Linked DNA regions of Homo sapiens. The protein of the gene in region 2 interacts with the protein of the main gene of each other region in a biochemical or structural test. Each region holds a gene or a part of one and is shown on either strand. Other genes may lie near its edges. The genes, in order: ANGPT2, ITGB1 and HEXB.

What was found.
Region 1: the proteins of ITGB1 (region 2) and ANGPT2 form a complex in vitro, tested with the Homo sapiens proteins (one study listed by BioGRID).
Region 3: the proteins of ITGB1 (region 2) and HEXB form a complex in vitro, tested with the Homo sapiens proteins (one study listed by BioGRID).

The regions. Positions count from the first base shown.
Region 1 is NC_000008.11:6,514,746-6,518,245, forward strand, and holds part of ANGPT2 (angiopoietin-2 isoform b precursor), read right to left. Parts: intron 34-3,500; coding exon 1-33. UniProt on the Homo sapiens protein: Binds to TEK/TIE2, competing for the ANGPT1 binding site, and modulating ANGPT1 signaling. Can induce tyrosine phosphorylation of TEK/TIE2 in the absence of ANGPT1.
Region 2 is NC_000010.11:32,909,687-32,913,423, forward strand, and holds part of ITGB1 (integrin beta-1 isoform 1A precursor), read right to left. Parts: intron 2,439-3,737; coding exon 2,200-2,438; intron 1,985-2,199; coding exon 1,762-1,984; intron 770-1,761; coding exon 537-769; intron 1-536.
Region 3 is NC_000005.10:74,715,996-74,719,010, forward strand, and holds part of HEXB (beta-hexosaminidase subunit beta isoform 1 preproprotein), read left to right. Parts: intron 1-591; coding exon 592-678; intron 679-2,295; coding exon 2,296-2,368; intron 2,369-2,801; coding exon 2,802-2,976; intron 2,977-3,015. UniProt on the Homo sapiens protein: Hydrolyzes the non-reducing end N-acetyl-D-hexosamine and/or sulfated N-acetyl-D-hexosamine of glycoconjugates, such as the oligosaccharide moieties from proteins and neutral glycolipids, or from certain mucopolysaccharides.

The DNA.
Region 1 (3,500 bases), on a different chromosome or scaffold from region 2:
CCCGCCTCCTCCAGCTTCCATGTCACAGTAGGCCTGCAAACAGGAATGCAGGGTATAAGTGACAGAGCCCCCCCACTCCCCCCTTACGTAGCAGAAGCAGGAGGAATGTAGACCCTGAGTGCAGGACTCAGCCGAGAGGGTTCTCTGGGATATAAGGCACGGAGTAGACCATCGGGGTTGTCTAAGAAACAGATGGTTTCAAATAAATTGAAAGTGATGGATTAAAATGATGGTGAAACATAAACAGTAATATAATATAAAGTGTTGATGAGAATATGACTCACTTGTCATCATCTGTTCCAGGCTAAAGACCCCACCCTGATGGCTGGTCCAGAGATTGCTGTTTTTTTAGAGATTCATTATGAATGGCACATTTTGGCAGATTGGCCCCGAACCCCACATCTCCATCCTGTAGAAAACCATTGACTTGTGTTCACAGCCTTGAAACCTTTCACTAAATGCCAGCCCCTGCCCCTCCACAGAGAGCTATGTGAAGGGGATACTCTTTGATCATAGGGTTTGGAGGACTCCTGTTACATTCTCGTACTGTGGGGCTGTTTGGCTTCCTTTATGTGCAATACTAATCAGATTTTTTGGTTCACATCTGAGCACAAGGGCCTTGAGGCTCCAGTGTCCTGGTGCAAGGTGTGTGACCTGGGCTTGGCTTAGCACCTTGGCCTCAAGGGCATGACTTCACGCTTCTCTGTACATAGCTCACTGCCCACAGTTTTTCTCTAAGCAACTCTTTTTATTTCTGCTCTTAAACTGGCTCTGTGGGTTTAAACTTTGTCCAGAACACAGAATTCTTTCTTAAGCTAAGCGCATGCATGCTCAATTTCAACTCAGCTGGAGTTTTATTATGAAATTAAAAACCCCTGAAAATAAGATTACATAAATAGTTTTAAATAATAAAGATTACAGTAGAACGAAACATGTTTTCCAGAAAGTAAGATAAATTTTCTGCCACATACAAGGTAGGAAATATTGAAGTTAAGGTTCAAAACCAATTGTAAATATTCTTCTTGTGTTGTGTCCCATGGTCTTTTTGAGAATAATGGAGGCGATTTGGCAGGGTAAGCTTCAACGCACACTGTTCTCTGTTTACGAGTTAGAATCCTAAAGAGGAGAGCGAAAAGAGAACCAAGAGAGTGCTATTCCTGTTCTTTCATTTCCTACATGAGGAAAGAGGGGTGCAGAGGAAGTGCAGTGGCTGCCTGATGCCTCATTGCCAGTGCAACCAGAGAACTGTCCCTGGAACAGCCTGGTCTGCAGGGGACTTCTCCCCAGCATGGTTCTGGTCTCTCTCCAGGAAGGTCACCCAGCTCGTATTGCCTTCCCCAGTGGCACTCATGTTTGGAAACATAGGTGCCATTAATGAAAGTTACATTTATTAAGAAGAAAATTATTTCCTCATTTTAAATTAATCTGATGTAGAAAATCAGTCTGCACAAGCTAACCCCTTGTTACCGCTCTGTATTGCTATGATTTTTATTATCATTGCTACACACCACTCTCATCCAAGTACTCTGCCAGATACTTTGTGTATATTATCTATAATCTCACAGCAACTCTGCTGTAGTATCATAATTCTGCATTTTTGAAAGGAGAAAAGATTTAGCAAAGTTCGATTTTGATCAGTTACTCACCTTCTAAGTGATATATAGGATTTGAATAAGGTCTCTTTGATTCCTGTTATGTTTTTTTTCCACTGACATCATGCTGCCAAAAACAGAGAAACCTGACCCTTTGGTAAATAGGCCAAAAGTCCCTCAACACAGTTCCAAGTTTAAATCAGTTCATGAATAATACTGCCTCTTATTTGCCTGCAGTCAACAAAATGGTCAGTGCTGCTCACTTCTATCAATATTTCTTTTTAAAAATCTATTTCATAAACCAGCTGAATAAGCTACTTTGGTTTGAGGATTCATGTACATATATTGAAGTTAATTCTGTATCCTAAATGGTATGCTCTTGGGTTGAAAGCATTGACGTGGCTCTTGGTGAGCCTATCCTTGTTCCAAGAATGTTTGATTCTTCAGTGTCAAAATTACTGCTATGAAGTTACCAGTACTTAAATACATGTTCTATCTTGTTCAGAGAACAAGTTTATCTTGTTATGGAAGTCAGAGGCAAAACTCTTAAATGTCTGAGAGTCACTGCCAGCACATAAATGATTTGAGCCATATGAGTATTCGCTTTGATTCCATTAGTGATGATGATAAGGTTATTAGAACATTTTCTTAGTACTTCATCCAGGTTTTTAGAAAAAAGAACAGAGGATTTGTAAAAACTGGAGTATTATGGTTAATTGGACTATAAAACTTGCAGAGAAAGATAGTGTTCAAATAGAGTTATCTACCCAGCCAGAAGATACTGAGTAAAAGTGCTGAAATTGATTATATCAGGATCAGCAAAGCAGAAGTCCTCAGATACTTCCCAAGACCTTACCACTCCAATTACAACAAACCTAAGGGCAGTTAATATCTTTAATCTGTCCACTGGTGCATGGTGCAGGAACCTGATATCTTTCTATAAAGCTTGATGTTTTTCAGCAAATAATACTTGACTTGCTTCAACTCTGAGGCAATGATTAAGTGACGGGTTAAATAGCAAACCATAGAGACAACCGTTAGGAGTCAGGTGTCCTGTGAAATTTAGGGAAGGAAATGACCATACATGCTTTTGATAAATGCCATCTTGCAGTCTCTCTCTCGTAGAAGAACCAAATGAATTTTTCAAAACTAAAGCTGCAGTATTTTGGCCTTTCAGGAAAAGATGTGCTCAAAGACCAATTGAACATTCTTTTCTTGAATTAGATAAATGAGTGCAGAATCGGGTCTCCTGCCAGGCAGAGAAGTTGTCTGGTAGTCTTTGAAGGCAGTGAAAATGGTGACCACTACCATTTACTGTCCCAAGTTCTACCCCAGGGGCTGTCCCTGTGTTGTCACAACCCCCAAGGCTGAGGGTATCATTGTTCTGTTACAGATGGGGAAACTGAGCTCTCAGAAAGGTTAAATGACTCGCCCAGAGCCACAAATGGCAGAGCTAGAATTTACATCCAAGTCTGTCTATCTCTCCCTGGATCAGATTGTGACTTACAGAGTCTTAAGTCTGGAAGGGAATTTAGAAGTAACAATTGACACCACTTATTTTTCAAGATGAGAAAATTGAGGTTTGTGAAAGCTTATTGTTCCCTGCTGTGTAAATGAGTTTCTTTTACTGCAAATGTTTAAAGGGAATATAAATCCTAATGTTTCCAACCATGACCTGAGGCTCATATAATCCCAGAGTACTATATATTTTCATCTTTCTGCAGAATATTTCAGTTATTCTGGGGGCCATGGGGTGGGACAGTGCACTGGGGTGGGAAGCTTGCACTTAGACTGAGAAACATAGATGAAACAATGTGATGGGGCTGCATGGTTAGCGGCTGTCCCTCTGCATCGGTGTCCATGGCATCCCCATTTCACATGCATCCTCTGTCCCCCCTCTTGACACTC
Region 2 (3,737 bases):
ACCCAAGAGAAATGAAAGCTTATGTTCACACAAAAACATGTACACTATGGTAGAAAATTCCAAAGAATCTACAAAAAGGCTACTAGGAAAACTAAGATTAAAAAAAAAAAGTTTCACCTCCGGAGAAGTTGAACAAATTCAACACTTTATATTAATATCCTTTAACAAATTATCTTTCCCAGTATTCAAGCTTAAATCAAGCTCTAATTTTAAAATCATCAATCATCAAAAAACTCTTAATATGCACTTGGTGTCAGGCATCGTTCTAAGTGTCTTATATAAATCACTAAGCGTCTTATATAAATCACTGTATTTAATCTTCAAACTCTCCACTCAGAAAACTTAAAAGTGGAACTCTCTTTTCCTTATTTCTTATACAGTTAATTAGATAATATTTTAAGCTTTGAGAGATGAAAAATTTCCCAACTTGACCTAAAATATTCCAGCTGGAGGCTGTTTCTGGATGTTAGGCCTAAATAAGCAGAAACAAGACATACAAGATATGAAAAGAATGTCTGCAATCATCGCATTTCTACCTGGATTCTCCACAACATGAACCATGACCTCGTTGTTCCCATTCACTGAATACGTAAAATAGAACCAACAGTCGTCAACATCCTTCTCCTTACAATGGGACACAGGATCAGGTTGGACCGGCTGGGGTAATTTGTCCCGACTTTCTACCTTGGTAATGTTAAAATAGGAACATTCCTGTGTGCATGTGTCTTTCTTTTCTCCTTTATTGAAGGCTCTGCACTGAACACATTCTCTGTTACAAAAAACACAAATTATGATATTTACATTTTATTATTTCAGTAAATATTTGCTTAAACATATTTCCCATGCTAAACTCTTGTGACCAAATTGAACAAACAGCTATGAAGGAAGATTTCAATAAATGAAGAGGAACATTACATTTGTGGATAGAAAAATTATGTAAAAAGATGCTAATTTCCATAATAAAATTAAAGATTTATTACAGTTCAAATTAAAACCCTATTAAGAAATAAAAGATAGTAAAATAAATTAGCCCTATCACATATTAAATATGTAACATAAAATCATAATAATTTTTTTTTTGCGATGGAGTCTTGTTCTGTCATCCAGGCAGTGCAGTGGTGTGACCTTGGCTCACTGTAACCTCTGCCTCTCGGGTTCAAGCAAGCCTCAACCTCCCAAGTAGTTGAGATTACAGGCACACACCACCATATCTGGCTAATTTTTGTATTTTTAGTAGAGATGGGGTTTCACCACATTGGCCAGACTGGTCTCAAACTCCTGACCTTAAGTGATCCACCTGTCTCGGCCTTCCAAAGTGCTGGGATTACAGGTGTGAGCCACTGTGCTCGGCCAAAATCATAATAATTTAAATAATATGTTACTAGTATAATAATCCTTCAAGAGGAAAAATCTTTAATTTGGCTTAGTTTTGTCAAAAGACAGTAATTAAGAAATTGGTAATGACAAATTAAATTAAATTAAATCTTAATTGCCAAAATAAAGGTTACCATGTAAATTCAATTATCTAGCACATTCAGATCAAAATAATAGTACAACTCTCACATGACACACTTCATACCATGTAATATATACTAGCTGTTGAGAAAGAACTTTTAAGAATTAAAGAGTAGGCTTCCACATGGCAGGCATTTTATTTACAGTATATTTTAATATTGGCACTGTTCTGGTTCTAGAAACAATACAGGCTTAGGAGAGCCAAGAGGAAGTATCAACTATTTCAAGCAATTAGGAAATACTTACTTATGCTCAGCACAGACACCAAGGCAGGTCTGACACATCTCACACGTTTGCCCTTGAAACTTCGGATCTGTACACTTACAGACACCACACTCGCAGATGCCCCGGCCATTGCAGATCTGTCCGTTGCTGGCTTCACAAGTACTAGTATCCAAAGAACAGTCACATGCACTGCCAGTGTAGTTGGGGTTGCACTCACACACACGACACTTGCAAACACCATTTCCTGCAATTAAGCATATCATTTCTCAAAATGGTAAAAATATACAATCACAGTATTGACTGAAAAGTAAAATAAGCAACAACATGTGAGAAAGTATACCTAGGGGCGAGACTGACCCTCAAGCTACCCCTTTTCTACTTATGCACCAACTAAACTCAAGATTTTTCGTGGCATTAGATGGGATCACATCTTACAACCACTTCAGGCCCTTTACTTACCTCCACAAATTAAGCCATTGGATCTATCACAGTTGAAATTATCACACTCGCAGAATTTGCCAGAATAAATTTCATTTGTATTATCCCTCTTCCTACAAACACACTGTCCGCAGACGCACTCTCCATTGTTACTGCAGATTTCTGAACTGTTTTCTTTCCTGCAGTAAGCATCCATGTCTTCACTGTTAACTTCATCTGTGCTGCATTCACAATGTCTACCAACACGCCCTTCATTGCACCTGAAGAAACATGCCAAAATTGCAATCACACAAAACAAAAATAATTTAAGAGGTTCCAAGATGGCCAAACAGGAACAGCTCTAGTCTACAGCTCCCAGCGTGAGCGACACAGAAGACAGGTGGTTTCTGCATTTCCAACTGAGGTACTGGGTTCATCTCACTGGGGCTTGCTGGACAGTAGGTGCAGCCCATGGAGTGTGAGCCGAAGCAGGGCGGGGCATCGCCTCACCCGGGAAGCACAAGGGGTCAAGGAATTCCCTTTCCTAGCCAAGGGAAGCTGTGACAGACGGTACCTGGAAAATCAGGACACTCCCACACTAATACTGCGCTTTTCCAATGCTCTTAGAAAACGGAACACCAGAAGATTATATCCCGCGCCTGGCTCAGAGGGTCCCATGCCCAGCTCAGAGGGTCCCACACCCATGGAGCCTCGCTCACTGCTAGCACAGCAGTCTGAGATTGAACTGCAAGGCAGCAGGGAGGCCGAGGGAGGGGTATCCCCCATTGCTGAGGCTTGAGTAGGTAAACAAAGCAAAAAAAAGCTAAAACTGGGTGAAGCCCATTGCAGCTCAAGGAGGCCTGCCTGCCTCTGTAGACAACACCTCTGGGGGCAGGGCATAGCTGAACAAAATCCAGCAGAAACTTCTGCAGACTTAAACATCCGTGTCTGACAGCTTTGAAGAGAGTAGTGGTTCTCCCAGCACGGAGTCTGACATCTGAGAATGGACAGACTGCCTCCTCAAGTGGGTCCCTGAGCCCGAGTAGCCTAACTGGGAGACACCTCCTAGTAGGGGCTGACTGACACCTCATACAGCCCGGTGCCCCTCTGAGACGAAGCTTCCAGAGGAAGGATCAGGCAGCAACATTTGCCATTCTGCAATATTTGCTGTTCTGCAGCCTCCGCTGGTGATACTCAGGCAAACAGGGTCTGGAGTGGACCTCCAGCAAACTCCCAACAGACCTGCAGCTGAGGGTCCTGACTGTTAGAAGGAAAACTAACAAACAGAAAGGACATCCACACCAAAACCCCATCTGTACATCACCATCATGGAAGACCAAAGGTAGATAAAACCACAAAGATGGGGAGAAACCAGAGCAGAAAAGCTGAAAATTCTAAAATTTGAGCACCTCTTCTCCTCCAAAGAAATGCACCTCCTCACCAGCAACGGAACAAAGCCGGACGGAGAATGACTTTGACAAGTTGAGAGAAGAAGGCTTCAGATAATCGGTAATAACAAACTTGTCCGAGCTAAAGGAGGATATTCAAACCCATCGCAAAGAAGCTAAAAACCTTGAAAA
Region 3 (3,015 bases), on a different chromosome or scaffold from region 2:
GACAGAGTGAGACTCCATCTCAAAAAAAAAAAAAAAAAAAAAAAAATGGAATAAAAAACCTGTTGCATTGAAGTAGCTGTAGAGGGCTCCACACCATAAGGAAGACTTAAGAGTAACATGCCTGCTTGTAAGGGTTTAAACTGGGCAACATGACTCCTGAGATGGTAGATTTGTGGAGAATGTACATTTTGGTATGGCAAAGTAAAGCTTGAGGAAAAACAAGATGCAGAAGAAAATGGAGATTCAAAAAAAGACTACTGTGAAATGAGAACACCTTTAGTGAAAGAGGGCAATCAATGATTAAATAGGAAAGATTTTTCAAATAAAAATTCTCTCTGCAAATAGCTTTAGATGGAGGAGAAAGGTGGTAAGGTAAAGAAAGCCATTTTTAAAGGAAATCAGCTTCTTGAAAAAATTGTTTGCAATGGATAATTAAGATAACTTGTAATTAAGTTTTTAGGCTTCTTTTTACTACCTACAAACTTTAATAGTTTTAAGTCTGCACAACTGATGTTAGGCATGTATACTGCTCTAAATAATAAACTGAGCATATCAAACTTCTAATGAAATTTTAATCACTTTTTGCTTCAGGGAATCAAATCCAAAAATTCAAGATTTCATGAGGCAAAAAGGCTTTGGCACAGATTTTAAGAAACTAGAATCTTTCTACATTCAAAAGTAAGTTGTTTGAAAGCCTATTTCTGTATTAATGCTTTTTGTAAAAGTTTATTTAGTAATGTGCTTTATTTTTTACATTTTCTCTACATCCTTTGCCTAAGTGTAGATGTGAAAAATCACTAAAGGAGGCAATACCCACTGCTTGCTTTAAATCAGTAACATGGTGACTCCAAGTATTTTCCAATAGCTGTTGAAATATAGGAAGGCAGTCATCTGTTCTAAAAACTCAGATTGGGCTGGGCATGGTGGCTCACACCTGTAATCCCGGCACTTTGGGAGGCCGAGGCAGGTGGATCACCGGAGGCCAGGAGTTCGAGACCAGCCTGGCCAACATGGTGAAATCCCATCTCTACTAAAAATGAAAAAATTAGCCAGGCATGGTGGCAGGTGCCTGTAGTCCCAGCTACTCGGGCGGCTGAGGGAGAATCTCCTGGGAGATGGAGGTTACAGTGAGCTAAGATCGCACCACTGCACTCCAGCCTGGGCAACAGAGTGAGACTGTCTCAATCAATCAATCAATCAATCCATCAATAAATATAAAACTCAGCTTGAAGCCCTGGCTACCCTGTGAAGTCTTCACTACCATCCAGCCCCTGGAATTCATTCCATTTTGTCAATTCCAGGAACATATATTTTACTATATACCTGTGCTACCCAATACAGTAGCCATAGCCACAGGTGTCTGTCCATATGTAAATTAATTAAAATTAATGAAAGTTAAAAATTCAGCTACTCAGTTGCATTAGCCACATGTCAAGTGTTCAGTAGCCAGCTGAGGCTAGTGACTGCCATACTGAAAAATGCATATATATATATATATATACACATTTCCATCCCAGGAAGTTCTACTAGACCGTGCTGCTCTAGAGGGATTGGCAAACTTTTTCTGTAAAGGGTCAGAGAGTAAAGATTTTAGGCTTCATGGGCCACATACAATTGCCCATGGACCACATACAATTTTTTTTTAACTTAAAAAAAACCTCAAATTTTAAAACTTAAAAAAAAATGCTTTACAAATATAAAAACCATTCTTAGCCCATGAGACATACAAAAACAGCCTGCAAGCTGTAGTTGCCAACCCTTATGCTGTACCATTTATTTGGCAAGCCCAGATTCCAGCCTTTGCCTGTTCAGCTTTTTGTGTGATGCATTTAAGTGTTATTTATCTGCAGAGCACCTGGCATTATGTAAATATCTGTAAATATTTGTGGATTGTCAGTAACTGTTACATGTAATTTATGTGATATGACAGGCTAGATCGTGGTCCCTACCATTTTAAGACAGCCATAAAATTGTAAGAGATTGCTGTTTGTACAATTTCCTGAGTTGCCTACCAACTCAATTTGAGGCCACTTCTTCCTATCTTAGGGGCATGTTTAACTCATTCATTCAGCAAATGATTATTAAACCCCCATACTATGTTAGGTTCTGTATCAAGTGCTAAAAAGGAGGAACTACTTGTGACACTTCCCAACTTGAGCTGCTTCTGCTATAAAGCTGAACTATACTAAAAGGCACCTCTCAAAATGCAAGAAATCCTTGGTAGAAAATGTACATGTTTTAAATATATTGTTAAGCTTATGATCTAAAATAACTATAATTTTTTTGTAATACTAGGGTTTTGGATATTATTGCAACCATAAACAAGGGATCCATTGTCTGGCAGGAGGTTTTTGATGATAAAGCAAAGGTGAGCATTGTGAAGACTGCATCTGATCAATATAAGAGACTTAATTATTTTTCTTGGGGCAACTGGGAATTTGCAAGTCTAACTACTAGTATTACCTTTCTAGTGTAGTTAGTGACCACTTTGGACCTCATAGTTCCAAGCTAGGTTTGGTAGAAATAAGACTAAAATGCAAGTCTCAGCTTTAGTTAACTGAACCTATGTGGTATCCATATATAAGCAAAAGTTAAATATTCAAACCTAAGGTTGATGAAACTTTTAAGTCCCTAAAATGAGTATCACATGGCACTAACTCTGAAGAAAAGAGGAAAAAGAAAATGCAGATTTTTTTTAAGGATCTTAGAAAATTATGTTCCTAGTAATAATGCCTTAAACTTTCAATTTCATCTACTGTTCTAGGCCTAATAATATGTATTGCAATTTGTAACGTTAATAGCTTGCGCCGGGCACAATAGTTGAAGTATGGAAAGACAGCGCATATCCTGAGGAACTCAGTAGAGTCACAGCATCTGGCTTCCCTGTAATCCTTTCTGCTCCTTGGTACTTAGATTTGATTAGCTATGGACAAGATTGGAGGAAATACTATAAAGTGGAACCTCTTGATTTTGGCGGTAAGTGAAGCAGTTGGTCCAAGTGTTGTGGGTTACTGT